Linked DNA regions of Homo sapiens: region 1 is linked to region 2. Evidence: fine-mapped expression QTL. Tissue or cell type: whole blood. Region 2 holds a variant in brackets; the other region holds the start of a gene. All regions are shown on one strand. Distances are from middle to middle.

Region 1 (10,029 bases), 97 kb after region 2:
AGTAGGAAAATATGATCCATAATGAAGAAGAAAAGTAATCAATCATTTCAAACCCAGAAGTGATACATATAATAGAATTGGTAATGTAGTTATTACAACTATATTCCATATGTACACTAAGGTAGAGGAAAATATAAGCATGTTAAGAAGATACGTGGAAGATTAAAAAAAAAAACCGAAGTAGATTTTCTAGAGATGAAAAGTACAATGTCTGAGATAAAAATTGTACCAGATGGAGCCGGTACGGTGACTCAGGCCTGTAAGCCCAGCTCTTTGGGAGGCTGAGGTGGGCAGATCTCTTGAGATCAGGGGTTCCAGACCAGCCTGGCTAACATGGTGAAACCCGATCTCTACTAAAAATACAAACATTAGCTAGGCACGATGGCACACGCCTGTAGTCCCAGCTACTTGGGAGGCTGAGGCAGGAGAATCGCTTGAACCCGGGAGGCGGAGGTTGCTGTGAGCTGAGATTGTGCCACTGCACTCCAGCCTGGGTGACAGTGAGACTCCATTTCAAAAAAAAAAAAAAAATTACCAGATGGGATTAACAGCAGATTAGATACTGTAGAAGAAAAGATAATGAACACGACAATACACCAGGAGAAACTCACCAAAACGAAAGAGAGAGAGAAACAAGGCTAAAAAAAGGAACAGGGCATCATCCATCCATGGACTATGAGACAACTCCAAATGGCCTAATTATGTATAAATGGGGCCCCCAAAAATGAAGAAAGAGAGGAGGGAACAAAAAAAAGTGAAGAAATAATGGTTGAAAACTTTAAATTTGATGAAAACTGTGAACAAGATACAGGAAACCCAGTGAACCCAAAGCACAGATCTCTTCTATTTCCAGTGCGTGGCTCTCAGCTGGCATGCAATCAATGTCTGATGAATAGATGAATGGTTGCTGTCAGTGCAGGCTGTCTGCCTGCTTTCTGCCTTTCTTTTCCTCCTCTTCTCCCACCCCAGCACCCACTTTGCTTCTCTCTTGCTTCCAGTGCTTCTATTTACCAGAGTTATCTTGGATGCCTATGATGGCCTCTGGGCTATAAACGCCACTTGACCTTTAGTCTAGGAGCTTGTCCTTGCTGTAGGCTTTGCCACTGAGAGCCTCCAACAATTCAGCCTCCTCCAAATTTGACAATAGCCAGGGGTTTAGAGACTAAAGCTAAGATATCATGAGTCCTGCTGGCACAGACTTCCCAGAGACTCCTGTTTTCGTAGTTCCCCTGTGGTGGCAGGGCCAGGAGGAGTGCCCAGGATGGACTGGATGCTGTGTTCTGCCCGGGTGTGTGGCCTCATTCACGGCCCACCTCTGCAGCTCCTTTGCCTTGTGAGGTCAGGCTGGTTGCTTCATTTCTCTGGGCTTCTAACTGTTTACTGGTGCTTGGATTTGATCATTTTTTAATCCCCTTCCAGCTCTGACATCTTGTACTCCCCTGCCACTCTCCCTTGACCATCTTTCTCTTTCACATGCCTCATCCTTGCTAATGGTGTGTGGAACCTGGAGATGAGGAAGGCAGGTGGGCCTCAGATCCATTGTCCCTGCCAGGCTCCTTCCTTCAATGGCTCCCCAGAGTTTTCAGTCTAATTCCAAACTCATAACTCAGCACACCAGGCCTTGATTCTTAGAGCATGGTCTCTGGAATCACCTGCATCAGAATTAGCACCGCCTCTACCCCCCATTCCCAGCTTGCTAACACTGAAGGTTCTGACTGGGAAGATCGGGGGTGGGTCACAGGAATCAGCATGTATGATAAGCACCCCAGGGGGGTTAAAATGTATTGGTAGGGGGAAATTAGCTCCTACCACACAGGGTAAAAAATCCGAACAAAGGCTGGGTGTGGTGGCTTACGCCTGTAATCCCAGCACTTTGGGAGGCTGAGGCGAGAGGATCGCTTGAGCCCCGGAGTTGGAGGCTGCAGTGAGCTATGATTGTGCCACTGTACTCCAGCCTGGGCAACACAGCATGATTCTATCTCAAAAAACAAGCAAAAAACCTCCCAAACAGTAGAAAAGAAACATCTGCTGCAACTTTCTCCTTGCTACCTCCCAAGTCACCTCCCTGGAAGCACCAGGTTCCAGAGACACTGGTTCCAGAGGTGGTGCATTTCCAAGCCCATGCATATATAGACATGTGTTTGAGGACAGGGCCAGGCCAGGTGATGCTGAAAGCCCAGTGAAGCCAGAGAAAGGCTGCACCAGGGCCTCTGGGGTGTGTCCTCATTACCTCTGTAACCTCCATCTGTGCTCCCCACCTGAACCCCCTGCCACAATCCAGCCTTGCTGGACGTGCCCCAGCTCAGCCATTGAGAATGCTGCCCCCAGTCTGTGTGACTTGCCTCAAGTGCTTCTCTTTGCTGAGAGAGCCTTTTTTCCTGTTTTGTTGCCCAGAGAATGCCTATTTATCCTTCAAGACCTAGTTCAAGTGCCTCCTCTTCCAGGGAGCCTTCCAGCCCCACTCTGTGCCCTCATTCTGGGTTCTCTGCAATTCCACATTCGCTGACACCCAAATGAATATGCTTTCCTGCTTCCTGTTTCTGTGCCCCCACCGGACAGTGAGCCCACTGAGGGCCAGGGCCATTCTTGTCCCCTGTTGAATTGCTGAGTTCCAGTACAGCACATGTAGTACACAGATACTCCGTAAGTGGTGTTTATCAGATGTCTACTTAGAAGGCATTCTGTCTCACTTTTCCTTTTTGCAGTTTGGAAATCCATCCCACAATGCTCCTCAGCCTCACCCAGGTTCTCCCGCTTCTTGGTGCTCCAAAAGGGGCTGGTGGCGGTGGGAGAGAGGACTCTGTGCAGAAGCCATAAAGAGAACGCTCTCTTCTTGAGTCACACGGGGGAAGTGGCCCTCAACTCCCAGCACATGTGGCTGAGAGGACTCAGAGGGGACTCACGTCACTGGGCTGGGGAGACTCAACCTCAAATTTCCCTTCCAGGGGGTTGCCCTGCTGGTGGCAGGTGAGCAGGGACAGGCTTGGTGGAGTATTCCTGGCAGAAGCAATGTGCCAGGCCTGCCTCCTCCCCACCCGTGCAGCGGGAGCAGGTGGCCCGGCTGCAGGGAGGGGGTAGGGAGACCCAAGAGAGGGAGGGGCATGGGAGAGGAAATTGAAAAAACAGAGTGGGGCTTGGGGGTGTGCGGCCAGCCAGGCAGTTGTTTAACAAGTAAATGTGCCGGGCACGCTAATGAGCTGCGCTCATTCATGGCGAGCCGCCTCCTGAATTGGGGAGCTGGCCAGGTTCTGGGGTGGAGGAACCAGGGACAGGAGCCAAGCTGGGGAGCTGCCCGCTGCTTGGGCAGGGCCCCCTGTGATGGGCTGCTGGGGGAGTCTTTGTCCTGGGTCTGGGGGGCTCCTTCCTTCCCTCCCTTCAGAGGAAAAGCCAGGCTTTGCCAGGCAGCAGCAACTCAGCCCAGGGCCTGCTTGGGATTCACTGTCCAGGCTGGTCTGGAAGCTTCTAGGGCAGGGGCTGGTTCTCAGGAGCCATAGGCAGGGCTGATCTTGCACCCCTGCTCACTCCCACCCTTCCTCATACCCCTTCACTCTGTCACTCTGAGGACCTAGGGGCATGTCGCCTGGCTAATCAACACTCTCTCCCTTCTCCACATGGGTCTTGGCTTCCAAGGGGCCCTCCGAGGTCCTGGGACCAGGGAGCTACTGCTGGAGCAGAAGGCTGGAGACATCTTCAACAGCCTGAGTGCTGTCTGTGACAGGCCTACTAAGTGCCAGGTGCTGGGGTGTGTGTCTGGGTGAGCGAGTGAGGATGCCAGGGGGTGGGCAGGGGTGTGGAGAAGCAGCTGCAGGTACTAAGAGGGGATAAACAAAGCAGCGGGCATGGAGGAATGTCACTCTGAGGCTGCGGGGAGAGCATGGATAGAGGGGCTGGGGCCCCATGGAGCAGGAGCTGGTGAGCTGCAGGGCAGGGGCAGCCCTCTCAGACTCCGGCCTGGTTTGTGGGAAGCTTCCCTAATATCCCACCACACAGGCACCCCTGAGAAAGCCCTGCCCCCTGAGAAACTGAACTTATGCTCAAGAACCCACTTACCGGATGGAGGTCATGGACAGGGATGTGTGAAAACTTTAAAAGAACTGTCAAAAGCCCATAAAATCAGCCACCTAAATTGTAACATACTGTGCTATGACAGTAGAGAGACTGCAAAATTCTCATCAACATGGAAAAGAAAAGCAAAGAAAACGCCTGAGCCTTGGGTACCTGGTGGGTGATAAGGCTTCAACCTTGTGGAGTCTATCAACCTCCCCTATCCCCACCCTGCCCGACACTCTCCCCACCAAATGCGTCCATGCTGTGTCTGGACCCAGGCCGCTCCTGAGACGGGAGGTGCTTCTCGGGCTACCCAGCTGTGTCCTCTTGCCAAGCAGCCTCACGTCAAGGCCCCGACTGCTGGACACTGCCCCAGCGAGCCACAGCTGTCCTTGGCGTTGAGGAGATCTTTCGTCTTTTCTGGGGTTGAGGAGAATTCTCTCCCCACCTGGATGTCCCGTTCACACCCACGTCCACACATGCCTTACGGTGACGAAGGTCCCTACCCAGCCGGGTGTGAGGCCTGGGTCTGACGGGGCTGGCCTGTGGGGTTCTCTCCCAAGCAGGCCGCCCAGCGCTATGCCAGCCCTCTCTGTCTCCTTTGATGTCAAGATGGAATATTCATTTTCATCTGTTTCCACCTGTCAGAAATGGAGGAACGCTGGTGTGAGTGGAGGAAGACGTTTGCCAGATTTCCAAGTCCCCTTAATGTCTGTCCCTCTCTTCTACAACGGGGGAAGAAGCCCGTGTAACTGTATGGTACAAATACGCCCTGCTGAGCAAGTGTTCCAATCAGAGCCATTCTCATCCTGGGCATGCGGCTAGCTTGTTCCCCTCTGAGAAGTGGGTGCATTGAGGTAGGAAGGAGACTGTACTCCGCCTAGCGCTTTCGTGGACCCTCCCCCCCGACAAAGCTCCATCCTCAAAGTCCAGGCTAAGTAAGGTTGGTGGCTTGAGGATGCTACCTGGGGCACAGGCACAGGGTTTCCCTTAACCAAGAATTGACACAGCGAGTCGGGTGGGGCCGAGAGGCCGCTGCTGCCGTCGGGGGATGGGGGGAAACGGGTCTGACTCCCCGGGAAGGCGTCCAAGCGGCAAAATAAGATCTCCCTCCCACCCTGGACTAGCAGCTGGGGCCGCGGGTGCCGGGGTGCGTGCGTCTAAATGTGCGCATCCTCGCCGTGTGTGTGTGTGTGTGTGTGTGTGTGTGTGTGTGTGTGTGTGTACAGCCAGGACTTGGCGGGTCGAGTCACACCCCCTTCCCTCTTCTCCCATCCCCCGCAGCCCCGTGCCCGCTGACGGCGCCTCGGAGGTTCCACCTTTGAAACTGTAGGCGGCTTGCAGCCGCTGAGTGGTCGTCGGGAGAGGGGGGCTGCGGCGGGGGAGGGCGGGGAGGAGCCTGGCCCTGGATGTGTGCTTTTCGATTGATGGATGACTGCCGGGTGGGAGCGAGCGCGCGGGTGTGTGTGTGATCGTGTGTGTGTGTGTGGTGTGTGCGCAGGGTGCGTGCGCGCGCGGGGCCTGCCCATTTTCCTCCTCGCAGCAGTCAGTTGGGAGCTGGAGGGAGGGAGAGGGAGACGCAGGCGGCGAAACGGCAGAGGAGCCGAGCCCCCTCCGCCCAAGGCGCCCTCCCTCCGTCCGCGCACAGGCGCCGTCGCTTGGAGGAGCAAGGTGCCTCCCAGCCCGCAGGGGCGCCGCGCGCAAGCCCGCGGGCTCTTCGGTGGCTCTGCCCCGGGACTGCACCTGGAGGCGGCCCCGGACGGGGATGGTCAGCGGCTGCTGCCGTCTGGCTCGCGAGCGGGACGCTGTGAGGGCACCATGGCGCTGACTCCCGGGTGGGGGTCCTCGGCGGGGCCGGTCCGGCCGGAGCTCTGGCTGCTGCTGTGGGCAGCCGCGTGGCGCCTGGGTGCCTCGGCGTGCCCCGCCCTCTGCACCTGCACCGGAACCACGGTGGACTGCCACGGCACGGGGCTGCAGGCCATTCCCAAGAATATACCTCGGAACACCGAGCGCCTGTGAGTATGGTCCCCGCCCCTGGCTCCCTGGCTCCGAGGTTGCCCTCCCACCCAGACGCAATTCCGGACTTGGGGGTGGGGGCAGGACCATTGGGGCCCGTCCGGGCTCCGCAGCCCACAGACGGGTCAGTGCCTGCCGGGGTCTTTCCCGAGCCAGGAGCCAGGAGCGCCGTGGTTTCCCCATCCCTGGGATTCAAAGGGCCCTCGGCGGGGTTGTCAGCTTCCGTCCTCACACCTGCACCCTGCACCCTGCACTCCGCACCCTCAGGCCCTCCTCACTGCGCCAGCGCTTTATTCCTCCAGGGTGCCTGCGAACTGGTGTCAGAAAGCCTTCCTTGCACCCAGGAGGGACACTTCCCACACTCGCCAAGCACAATGTCTCCTTTTGGGCACATGGGGCTACGGCCGCGTTCTGAGCCAGCTGCGCAGATTCCCGCTCCCAGAGCTTGCTCCTGACGAAGGGCAGCAGGGTGGGATGGAGGCGAAGTTTCTGGTCTGCCCCTTCTTCTCCATTGTTTGCCCCAGAGCCTTGAGAATTCTTCCCCTGCAGGTGCCACGCGTTGGTCCCCTACTCACCCGCCTCCCTCCACACCCAGCCATCCCCAACACAGGCAGACAATGGGACCTGAGGGCTTTGGGTATGGGGCTTGGGGTATGTAACATTCAGCACCCGAAAAGGGGCAGGTGTGTCTTGGATGGAGAACCCGGTGGATAATGCCAAGAAGTCAGGAGCTTGGAGAGGGGGGCCCAAGGTTAAAGATATTGACCATGACAAGTAATAAAAAAATAGCATTTCTCTTCCCCTGTTCTGTCTCACTTGTGAATTCTTGAGGAAACTTGATCCTTTTCTTTTCTAGACCCAGTAAGCTAGTAGAATGTGTGTGTGTGTGTTTGGGTGTGTTTGAGTGTGTGTATTTACAGACCTTTATACTTTGTTTTCTGTGACTCTCCTGCAGAATGTGTTTCTGTGTGAATTCCTAGTATTAAGGGGCCACCTTAATAGCGTGAGGCCATGAGAGTCCCCGTAATGGGCTGTGTGTGTGTAGATTTTGGTCACATGCAGGGCCTTTGTACTGCTCGCAGAGGTGACTACACCAGGAGATTTTTGAACAGGGCTTTGGAGAAGGCTGCTGGCTCCTTTGAAACCTACCTACTCCTCCTTCCCACACTCCTCGGTGACTGCAGTGGCTCTCAGGAAAGGTGTGCATATTTTGATAACTTTCGAGCACATTTTCATGGCCCCCAGCTGGTCAGAGACAGAAATCTGACCCTGAGGAGAGCTGTCTCCCGAATCAGACTCTGTACCAAGGCCAGCAATTAGTGAGCACACATTTGCCCCAGACTCTTCTTGGCTGCATCTGAAAAATTCCCGTGGAGGTTTTAGAGAATTTGCAATCTAGATGCAATCTAGATGGGAAGTGTGTGTGTGTGTGTGTGTGTGTGTGTGTGTGTGTGTGTGGTGCATGTGTATGTGTGTGTGTGAATGCTTGTGTGTTACAGGGCTGGGGAGAGGTGGTACCAAACTGAGTTTCTGTGGGCAGCGTGTGCATTATCCTGTGTGGACCCAGAGAGGATCTGAGGGTCAGAAATCTGTCCAGAGGACCCCCGCAGTGGCCTGGTCACCCTCCATGCCTGTCCCCTCTGTACCTGCTCCCTGCTCCCCTTGCCTTGTCCACTGGAGTTTCTCCTGAAGCTGCTACCCTGGTTGCAGCCTAGATCTAAGACACATTAGCCCTTCTTCTTTGCTTTTGAATCTTGAGTCTTAAAGTCATCTCCTCCCTCTTTACTCTCTCACCACCTTTAGTGTTTAAGACTTCCATGAACTCTTTAGCTCTTTTGTGATCAGAGTGAGATGAAAATGAAATTTCCTAGTACAGAGGAAAGAGGTGGCATTCTGGGAGCTATACTGCCTGGTTCCCCAGCTCTGTCACCTATTAGCTGTGTGACCTTGGGCAAGTTACTTAACTTCTCTGAACCTTAGTTGCTTTCCATCAGGAAAATGGGGCTGAGGCTACATAAGGTCTCTGGTTCTTGTGAGGATGGAAGATCATGTATGGGAATTGCCTGGTACCTTCTGATGCTCGCTAAACGAGAGCCATTATTATGATAGGATAGGGAGGGGAATCTCATTATTTTAATTCAGCAAATGTTTCGGAGCCAGGAACTGCCCTGGGTGCTGAGGCGTCAGCAGGGAGTGAGCCCATCCCTGTCCTCAAGGGGCACATGGTCTAGAGAACTGGGCAGAGGACCTCTAATGGTGAGCTCTCAGGAGAGGGCCAGGCAGCCTCAGGGAACGGACTGTGGGAACACTGGGGTGAGAAGCCCTTTTCCAGGGTGAAGGGGTTTCTCAGAGGATGGGCCACTTTATCAAGGTTGGTTTGGATTTTGCCAAGCACAGAGGGCAGGCAATCTAGGCAGAGGGAACAGCTGGGCTCCAGGCCCAGCACATTCTGCTGCTTGTCAGGTCATGGGGCCTGCTTTCTTGCAGACGTCTTTTTTTTTTTTTCCTTTTTTGTAGAGATGAGGATCTGGCTATATTGCCCAGGCTGGTCTCAAACTTCTGGGCTCAAGCAATCCTCCTGCCTCCGCCTCCCAAAGTGTTGGGATTACAGGCGTGAGCATAAGCAAAAAGCCAGCAGGTGTGAGTATGAGCCAAAAACCTGCGGGTGTAAGCATGCCTGGCCCGATATGGGCAGATGGACCAGCTTGTCCCTGGGGCTGAAACATGCTCTGGCCAGTGGCCAGTGGGTGGGATGGGACTTGAGGCTGGAAAGAGATGTTGGGAAGGGTCAGGAAGACTTTCTATATGTGAACTTTTCCTCTGGGAACTTCCTAGTTGGAAGCCAGGGGTGAGTTATCCTGGGGAAGTGGAGCAGGTCTGATCTTTGCCATGTGGGCAAAGCTTCCTGGACTGGGAAAGCGCAGGGAGCCCGCCTGTTCTCCAGGCAGCCCGTGAAAGAGCTGCTCAAAGAGGAAAAGAACATCTTGAAAGAGGCCTTGGTGAGAGCCCAGGCAGACTCAAAATAACTGTGGCAAATGCTCTCTCTAATCAATATGAGTGTTGTGCAGTATCAGAGCCTGAAACAGTGGCTTCTTCTGAGGCTGTGAAATTTTTATGGACTGCAGCTGTGCATTTGCCTTTTGTCCTTTGGGCAGTTTCTGCGGCAGCCTGCGAGGCCCAGCAACTTTATGATCATATATTCTATAACTCTGGGTCCAGGCCTGTCCCCCGAAATGGAAAGAAATGGTCATTGGTTTGCTGTGGGGACTTCTGGAAAGAGGTTGGGTAGGCCCCAGAGCTGCTGAGGAAATTGGTTCAGCCAGAGGGGCTGTGGGGCTGGTCAGCTGGGCAGGGAAGGGATGCTAAATAATTCACTGTAATGAACAGTTAAAATACAGAGCCAGGGCTGGGAGAGGTGGCGGAGGCGGCCCGGGAAGCTTCCTTTCTTTGTACTGCCCAGGCGCAGAGAGACCCAGCCATGGTCACCATTAAGTTATTTTTTTCTTCCACAACGACCTTGACTTTCAGTTGGACTTGGTTTTTAATTTAAAAAATCTTTTGAGTGTCCAGGAGAGTGTGACAGGAGAGTGCAGTATGTGTGGACATCGCTGGTTCCCCCAGCCCTGGGCATCCTGGGTATTTGAGGTTTGTGGAAGGTTCCCCTTGTGCAGAGAGGGTAAGTTGTCCGAGGATGGAGGGAGGCAGGCAGGGCCTCTGGGAAGGCCTACTGTTCTCTCTTTGCCTCCAGGCCCAGCACATTCTGCTGCTTGTCTGGTCTTTTTTTTTCCTTTTTTGTAGAGATGGGGATCTAGCTATGTTGCCCAGGCTGGTCTCAAGCTTCTGGGCTCAAGCAATCCTCCTGCCTCAGTCTCCCAAAGTGCTGGGATTACAGGCATGAGCCACCATGCCCAGCCTTGCCGTCCTCCTTATGTGCCCTTCCCTCCTTGCCAGTTCGTCCACCCTGCC
Region 2 (9,222 bases):
CTTCTGGGCTCAAGCAATCCTTCCACCTTAGCCTCTCAAGTAGCTGGGACTACAGGCATGCGCCACCACACTCGGCTAATTTTTAAAATTTATTCTAGAGACTGAGTCTCCCTATATTGCCCAGGTGGGCCTCAAACTCCTGGGCTCAAGCATTCCTCTTGCCTTGGCCTCCCAAAGTGTTGGGAATATAGGTGTGAGCCACTGCACCTGGCCAAAGATTTAAACAAGGAAAAATTGCTCTGCCTATAAAGATTCCCATGTTATGTTTTTGACCTGTTGATGAGGAACACCCCCTCCCTTCCATTTCTGGTTTTTATTAAGTAGAATGGTCCTTTAAAATTTAACACATTTCATTTCTTATACCTTCAAGTTACTCTTAAGCAGACAATACTAAAGGGGAATCACAAATAGAAAATATCCACTGCCAGGCATGGTGGCTCACGCCTGTAATCCCAGTATTTTGGGAGGGGGAGGCAGAGACAGGAAGATCACCTGAGGCCAGGAGTTTGAGACTAGCCTGGGCAATATAGGGAGATCCTATAAAAAAAATAAAAACACATAGCCAGGTGTGGTGATGCACGCCTGTGGTCCCAGCTACTTGGGAGGCTAAGGTGGGAGGATCACTTGAGCTCGGGAGGTGGAGGCTGCAAACAGCCATCATCCTGCCATTGCACTCTAGCCTGGGTGATAGAGTGAGACCCTGTACAAACAACAACAACAACAAAAACAAAAAAAACTATCCACTTTATCAATAATAGTATAAACATAATACAGACCTTTAAGGGTCAAAGAGAAAAGGCGAAAGCAGGAAATGAAATAAAGCTACTTCTCCTCATAATTGGCAGTAGGGAAATACGCACAGCTTAGTATTTTTTAATTAAAAAGAGACTTAAAAAGAAAGTGCTAACTATTATTACATGAAGAGCCAGCTTAGGAACAGACAGTAGAATGCCTGGAAATGTTTCTGGAGGACAGGGGAGGTGTCTGAAGATGTGGAAAGGGTTCTATGTCTTGTTAATTTACATATACCTTAGGTATGGAATATTGGTTAGTAAACATGACTTCTGAGCCTTGGTTTTTTGACACGGAGTCTCGCTCTGTGGCACAGGCTGGAGTGCAGTGGCGCAATCGTGCCTCACTGCAACCTCCGCCTTCTGGGTTTAAACAATTCTCCTGCCTTAGCCTCCTCAGTAGCTGGGACTACAGCCATGTGCCACCACGTCCAGCTAATTTTTGTATTTTTAGTAGAGATGGGGTTTCATCATGTTGGCCAGGCTGGTCTTAAACCCCTGACCTCAGGTGATCCACCCACCTTGGCCTCCCAAAGTGTTGGGATTACAGGTGTGAGCCACCGTGCCTGGCCTGAGCCTTTTGGTTAAATTGCTTTTTCTGTAATAAGACAGTAATGTGTTCCTTCGAGAAAAATGGTTTAAAAGGTTTAAACCTTTATTGATCCCAGGAAGACTTGTCTGTTCTTACATGCACAGTTAAGTGAGAAAACCTGAATCTAGTTTTGTATTTGTGCTGTTAAATTCTATCTGAAGGGTAATGAGGAGTAGATTTCTTCAGGGGATTTTCTTGAATCTGGTTTTATTTTACATTTTATCAATGATCAGGTTTAGAGAGTTTGATCATATTTGTAAATAAGGCCTGTCTTGGAAGGAGGGGAAGGAAGAAAACAGAATTTTAAAATTAATCTGCATAAACTGGTAAGTGGCATGAAACCACAGCATAAAGCAAAGCAGATATTGTTGCACAAGTTTACTTTGGTCAGAACAATTGGGTCGGTAGTGTTATAAAGAGTGATATAGGAAATCTGTAAACTTTTTGCTGTAAACATTACATTTGGCTTAGGCCAAGCATGGTGGCTCACGCCTGTAATCGCAGCACTTTGGGAGGCCGAGGCGGGCAGATCACTTGAGGTCAGGAGTTCGAGACTAGCCTGGCCAACATGGTGAAACCCTGTCTCTACTAAAAATATAAAATTAGCTGGGTGTGTGGCGGTTGCCTATAATCCCAGCTACTAGGGAGGCTGAGGCAGGATAATTGCTTGAACCTGGGAGCTGGAGGTTGCAGTGAGCCGAGATTGTGCCACTATACTCCAGCCTGGGCAACAGAGGGAGAGACTCTGTCTCAAAAAAAAAAAAAAAAAAGCAAAAAAAAAAAGAGAAAATTATCTAGGTATGGTGGCACATACCCGCAGTCCCAGCTACTTGGGAGGCTGAAGCAGGAGGATCACTTGAGCTCAAGAGTTTGAGGCTGCAATAAGCTAGAATGCCGCCACTACACTCTGGCCTGGGTGACTGAGACCCTGTTGTTAAAAAAAATAAATAAAAATAAATTTGTTTTAAAAAATTGTATTAAAAAACATAACAGTTTATCATCTTACCTATTAAGTGTGTAGTTAATTAATGTTAACTACATTCGCATTGTTCTGTGTCCAGCCATTTTTTATATGGAACATCTACAACCTACAAATCCATTGAAGCTTTAAGAGTATATACTTTCGGCCTTGCACAGTGTCTCATGCCTGTAATCCCAGCACTTTGGGAGGCGGAGGCGGGCGGATCACCTGAGGTCAGGAGTTTAAGACCAGCCTGGCCAGCATGGTGAAACCCCGTCTCTACTAAAAATACAAAAAATTAGCTGGGTGCAGTGGCATGCACCTGTAATCGCAGCTACTTGGGAGGCTGAGGTAGGAGAATCGCTTGAACCTGGGAGGCGGAGGTTGTGGTGAGCTAAGATCACACCATTGCACTCCAGCCTGGGCGACACAGCGAGACTCAGTCTCACAGGAAAAAAAAAAAAAAAAAAAAAGTATATGCTTTTTTTTCTTTCTTTCTTTTTTGTTAAGAGTATATAGTTTGGCTAAAAGTGGTGGCTCTCATCTGTAATCCTACCACTTTGGGAGGCTGAGGTGGTAGGATCACTTGAGCCCAGGAGTTTGAGACCAGCCTGGGCAACCTAGCAAGACATTGTCTCTACTAAAAATAAAAATAGTTAGCCAGGCGTGGTGGCACATGCCTCTGGTCTCAGCTGCTAGGAAGGCCGAGGCAGGAGGATTGCTTGAGCCTGGGAGGTCAAGGATGCACTGAACCGTGAGTATGCCACCATTCTAGCATGGGCAATAGAACAAGACCTTGCCTCAAAAAACCCCCAGTATATACTTTTTTCCCCTCTTCCCCACTATGAAATAAACTTATATAATATTTACTACAGAAGGCTAGAAAAATATGTAGAAAAAAATGGGGGCTGGTCTGAGTGTCTCACGCCTATAATCCCAGCACTTTGGGAGGCCAAGGTGGGCAGAACACTTGAGGTCAGTAGTTCGAGACCAGCCTGGCCAACATGGTGAAACCCTGTCTCTACTAAAAAGACAAAAATTAGCTGGGCATGGTGTCGCACATCTGTAATCCCAGCTACTTAAGAGGCTGAGGCAAGAGAATCGCTTGAACCTGGGAGGCAGAAGTTGCAGTGAGCCAAGATTGCACCACTGTACTCCAGCTTGGGCAACAGAGTGAGACAATGTCTCAAAAACAAAAAGCAAAAAATACAAATAAAAATAAGAGAAAAAAGCTAGGTGTGGTGGTGTGCACCTGTAGTCCCAGCTACTGGGGAGGATGAGGTGGGAAGATTGCTTGAACCTAGGAGCTTAAGGCTGCAGTGAGCTATGATGACACCACTGTGCTCCAGCCTGGGTGCCAGAGTGAGACCCTGTCTCTAAAAAAAAGAAAAAAAAAGGAAAGAAAAATATGTAGAAAAATGGTAAACTAGCCACTCCAATTTACCAGATAGATACAACCATTATTAATATTGAGACAGTTTTTTTTTTTTTTTTTTTAATAGAGATGAAGTTTCACTATGTTGTCTAGGCGGTCTCAAACTCTTGGGCTCATGTACTCCTCCCACCTTGGCAACCCAAAGTGCTGGGATTACAGGTGTGAGCCACCATGTCTGGTTCCTTCTGAGTCTTAAACTGTAATGCCTCTTATCTAAAATATGACCCATCCAAGATCTGATTTCTATCTTGGTTTCCCAGTTTCCTCCCAATAAGTGCATCATTTCTGGTTGGAAACAGTATAGCAAAAGAGTGATTGAAATACAATTTTTTTTTTTTTTGAGACAGAGTCTCACTCTGTTGCCCAGGCCGGAGTGCAGTGGCATGATCTCAGCTTGCTGCAGCCTCCGTCTCCTGGGTTCAAGCAGTTCTCCTGCCTCGGCCTCCCGAGTAGCTGGGACTACAGGCATGCGCCACCATGCTGGCTAATTTTTGTATTTTTAGTAGAGACGGGGTATCACCATGTTGGCCAGGTTGGTCTCGAACTCTTGACCTCATGATCCACCCACCTCAGCCTCCTGAAGATGCCCTCTGGTCACCTTCAGTGAACACTCTCACCTACACTTTTACTAACCATCTTTTAGGGTGGGTTGTTTCTACAGATGCTGGAGCCTATTTATTTTGTGCTGATGTTTTGCTACTGTTACCCGATATAAACTAAATTCAGCTAGGCCATAGAAACTACATAGTAACAGCCGGGCGGGTGGCTCACGCCTGTAATCCCAGCACTTTGGGAGGCTGAGGTGGGTGGATTGCCTGAGGTCAGGAGTTCAAGACCAGCCTGGCCAATATGGTGAAACCCCGTCTCTACTAAAAATACAAAAATTAGCCAGGCGTGGTGGCAGACGCCTGTAATCCCAGCTACTTGGGAGGCTGGGGCAGGAGAATCGCTTGAACCTGGGAGGTGGAGGTTGCAGTAAGCCGAGATCGCACCACTGCACTCCAGCCTGGGCGACCAGAGTGAGACTCTGTCTCAAAAAAAAAAAAAAAAAAAAGAAAAAAGAAACTACATAGTACTTTAAACAGAGAACATTTAATAGGTTATAAACTATAACTGGGGATTCGAGTAACAAGGAATTGGCTAGTAAGAAGTAAAGAGATCTCTAAGAAATATAGAAATAGATACAGGAATCAGCTGAGTTAGAATGTACAAGGAAGAGGGTCCCTAGGGCAGAGTTCCAGACCTTGCTGGAGATGGCATGGCCATGGCTGACTGATTGGCAGCCATTGCTCTGAAGGGGAAGATACAGAAGGGAGGGCTCAGATTCATACTGGGACAAACAGACTTACACATTCATATTTGTTAGGATTCTTCAGTTATATGTGATAGAAACTAAAACTAGCTTAAGCAAAAAGAGACTCTATTAATTGGCTCAAGAAACTGAAAAGTCCAGGGGATAAATCAAGTATGGTTTAATCTGTATGGAAAATCTCAAATCTCAGTGTTGTTAGATATCTACCTCTTTACTGTCTTAGATCTGGTTTCCTCTGTATTTGCTTCCTAAGAAGGCAGATTCTGTATAAAAAGTGGCAGTAATAGGCCACCAACGGTGTCAGTCTTACATCCCACCAGCTTAGCAATTTTAGGATTCACAAGAGTCTTGGAGTTGAGACTTTTTGTCCTGGTTTGACTTGTGGGCCTTTGCTTGGATTCATGAAGGGAATAGAATGTTTCAGTTGGTTAAGCTTGGATGACATGCTCACAGGCAGTGCCCACCAGGTCACATAGATTCGAAAGATGGGGAGAGGTTTATTGCTTAAAGGAAAATGGGGGTGCTGTTACCAGAGGAAGGGGAAAATACGTATTGGGAATTCAAAAGCAGCAGATGTCCACTGTGCTATCTCTGTAACTCCCCTGTGTACCTCTCTTTAAATTTATGTTTTGAAAAGGGCTGGCCACTAATGTGTGGCGAAAACATTTTATGTTTCTTAAAAAAACCCTGAGAAACCAAAAAGCACCTTAAGTATTAGCTCTTTTTTTCTCCCACTGTCTAACTCCTACACGTCTTTAAGATCTAGCTCAAATCTCTTGTATATGGGTAAAAGATTCTCTCCTGAATTCTTAGAGCCTTTATTGTCTGTATCATGCATTTGGCTATTAATGATCTTGTATCATCTTTTGCGTTGTGGTCTTTAGCTACTATTTGAAATCGCGTAGCACTTAGTGAATTTTCAGTTCCTGGAGGCCAGAGACTTACCTTAGTTTTTGTCCCCTATACCTTACAATACC[G/T]TAAAGTTACAAAGCAATTAGTAGATCATGATTGGATTGATTTTAAATGACACACAAGTGATCGATTTCTTGTTTGGGTACCATATGTCTCAGAAAAGCAATTCACCTTCTTATGTTGGTTGATGAAAAGATTTATAGTTAAATTTGTGAAATATTGAATATTTCTGGCTGACTACAAGTATAGAAACTCTTTTCTTTTTTGAAACAGGGTCTCACTCTGTTATGACTCAGGCTGGCGTGCAGGGGCAAGAACACACCTCACTGCAGCCTTGACCTCCTGGGCTTAGGTGATCCTCCTACCTCAGCCTCCTGAGTAGTTGGGACCGTAGACTCAAGCAACCATGCCTGGCTAATTTAAAAACAATTTTTTTTTTTTTTTTTTTTTGTAGTGACAGAGTCTTGTCAGGTTGCTTATACTGGTCTTGAACTCCTAGGCTCAAGTGATCCTGCCACCTTGTCCTCACAAGGTGTTGGAATTATAGACATGAGCCGCTGTGCCTGGCCAGAAACTCTTAAGAATTTTCAATTTGTGAACTTGTGTAGATATGAACAAGTCATGTGCCAGAACAAAAACCATTAGCTGTCTCTTGGATAGTATGTGTCACTCTGAACTTTGGAACAAATGAATATAGAAGTAGTCTTTTAGGACCTAATCAGATCATACGTAGAAGTACTTCTAGTTTTAATTGCCTGAGACTCATGGCACTTAAAAGTCTGTAGGAGGCTGGGTGCAGTGGCTCATGCCTAATGCCAGCACTTGGGGAGGCTGAGCTGGGAGGATCGCTTGAGGCCAGGAGTTTGAGACTAGTGTGGTCAACATAGTGAGACCCTGGGCTGTATTAAAAAATTAGCCAGGTGTGGTGGCACACACCTTTAGTCTTAGCACTTTGGGAGGTTGATGTGGGAGTATGGGAGGATCCCTTGAGCCCAGGTGTTGAAGGCTGAAGTGAACTATGATTGCACACTGCATTACAGCCTGGTCAACAGAGTGAGACCCTGTCTTAGGGGAAAAAAAAAAAATAGGAAAAGAGAGACTCATGAAGCATTGACTCTGATTTTTTGAGGAGCAAATATTTTTTAGATAAATGGTAAGAAAGAGACTGTATTATCAGTGAAGCATCCTATAGAACTTTTTCCAAGTTAATAGGGAATTTTGATGTTACCTTTTTTTTCTTTTAATTATTATTATTATTTTTGAGATGGAGTCTTGGTCTGTCACCTTGGCTGGAGTGCAGTGGTGTGATCTCGGCTCACTGCAACCTCTGCCTCCCGGGTTCAAGTGATTCTCCTTCCTCAGCCTCCCTTGTAGCTGGGATTACAGGTGTGCACCACCACACCCAGCTAATTCTTTTGTATTTTTAGTAGAGATGGGGTTTCACTATGTTGGCTAGGGTGGTCTTGAACTCCTGACCTCAAATGATCTGTCCACCTCGGCCTCCTAAAGTGCTGGGATTACAGATGTGAACCACTGCACCCAGCCTGATGTTACTTTCTTAATACAAATAACTTTCTTCCCATTGTACACTAGCATGAGGGAGAAAAATTAAGGAAGGTGTCAGCAGCATAATTAATGCTTATTCATATGACACCCAGAAAGATAAAAATTACCAAGCAAATAAATGAGTGAGTAAATTGGCATTATTTATACTCATCATTCTTGACTGAGAATATTACATTGTCATTCCATAGGGCAGAATCTTAGATTAGGATTCCAAAAATGTTTAGGTTAAGAAGGTAGGCAATCAAGAGTTTTTTCATCTCAGAATAGTTTGCCAGTTTAATTTTGGTTAAGTTGTATTATTAGTTTGAAATTTGGGCTGGGCGTGGTGGCTTATGCCTGTGATCCCAGCACTTTGGGAGGCCGAGGTGCGAGGATCACTTGGGCCCAGGAATTTGAGACCTGGGCAACGTAGAAAGACTTGTGTCTACAAATAATAAAAAAAAATTAGCCAGGTGTGGCTGTGCATGTCTATGGTCCCAGCTACTTGGGAGGACGAGGTGGGGGAATTGTTTGAGCTCAGGCAGTTGAGGCTACAGTGAGTCATGATTGCGCCATTGCACTCTAGCCTGGGCAACAAGGGAAGACCCAGCCTCAAACAAACAAACAAAACGCACACACACACACACAAAAGCAAGCAAGAAAGAAATTTGTTCAGGTTGAGATCAAATATAGGGGCTAAATATATTTGCAGACTTTTGGAGTCTAACTTAGAGATAATTTTGTAGTCCATACTATAAAACATTGCACAGCTACTCCTAAGGGCAGACCTTAGGGTATAAATATTTCAAAAATTTTATCTAAGAAATTGGATATCGTTCCCTGAATTGTGGTACGACTTATTAATGTTGAACTGTCTCTGGTATTAAAAAGCACCACCAGCTTGGACATGTAGGGCCTGTTTAGTTTTCTCTTCTCTTTTTATGTACAGCTTTCATGATACTGGCTTAAATTTGATACATAGAAAGAGGGAAGAATACAGTCTTTTCTTTGATAGTTGTATTTCTTATCTAACAGCTTTCCAACAAAGTGACACATTTAAAGCTGTGTTTCAGAGCCTTTTAGAGTTGAAAAAGCAGTAAGAGAGAGGGCATTCTTCTCTCAGGGTGGTAAATCAGATTTAGACAACTTTAAATATAGCTCATATTTTGATAAATCTTGCCAAGGTTGTGGTTCTTGGAAAACAAATCAAGTTAGGCAATTCACCAGGGAGGAAACATTTAGTTTTGTGGGTATGCAGTTTTGGTATAGTCAGCCAAAAGATACATCTGCAGGATGCAGTTTTTTTTTTTTTTAACTGCCTTGAATTTTGCAGATTCATGGCTTCAACATGCCTCAGAAGCACTTGCATTTCATTTTTCTGTAATTGATTTTTCAGCTGTGGATTGTTTCCAGTCCTTTCACTGAGCATATCACCTTACATGTAGGGTTCCATCTAGTGGTAAAAGTGGTAATTGTATACTGTGAGTAGGTTATACAAATTATTATTTTTTTAGTATTACTAGATTGATAAATTTATGCCACTTTGACATGATAGGCCACAATCCACCTGATTGATACTCATTTGGCACACTCTTCTCAATTCTGTTCACTGAGTTATATCTTGAGTTAGGATGAAAATAATGCAGCTTTCAGGCTTTAAAGTGACTAAATTTA

What was found. PIP is the estimated chance that this variant, and not a neighbour inherited with it, causes the effect.
Region 1: it holds the start of SLIT1, and the variant in region 2 is fine-mapped to the expression of SLIT1 in whole blood (TOPMed, PIP above 0.99).

The regions. Positions count from the first base shown.
Region 1 is chr10:97,181,511-97,191,539 of GRCh38, reverse strand. It overlaps SLIT1 (slit guidance ligand 1), which reads left to right and starts at 5,581. Exons shown (of 37, transcript NM_003061.3): 1 at 5,581-6,062. The coding sequence starts at 5,866. All of the region lies in intron 11 of ARHGAP19-SLIT1 (ARHGAP19-SLIT1 readthrough (NMD candidate)), which reads left to right. RefSeq lists enhancers at 4,736-5,236, 5,237-5,737.
Region 2 is chr10:97,278,451-97,287,672 of GRCh38, reverse strand. The region is part of intron 1 of ARHGAP19 (Rho GTPase activating protein 19); the gene reads left to right. All of the region lies in intron 1 of ARHGAP19-SLIT1 (ARHGAP19-SLIT1 readthrough (NMD candidate)), which reads left to right. Among named protein-coding and RNA genes, the nearest start is that of ARHGAP19, 9.6 kb to the left of the region's middle. The variant G/T (reference allele first, on the strand shown) is at 6,069.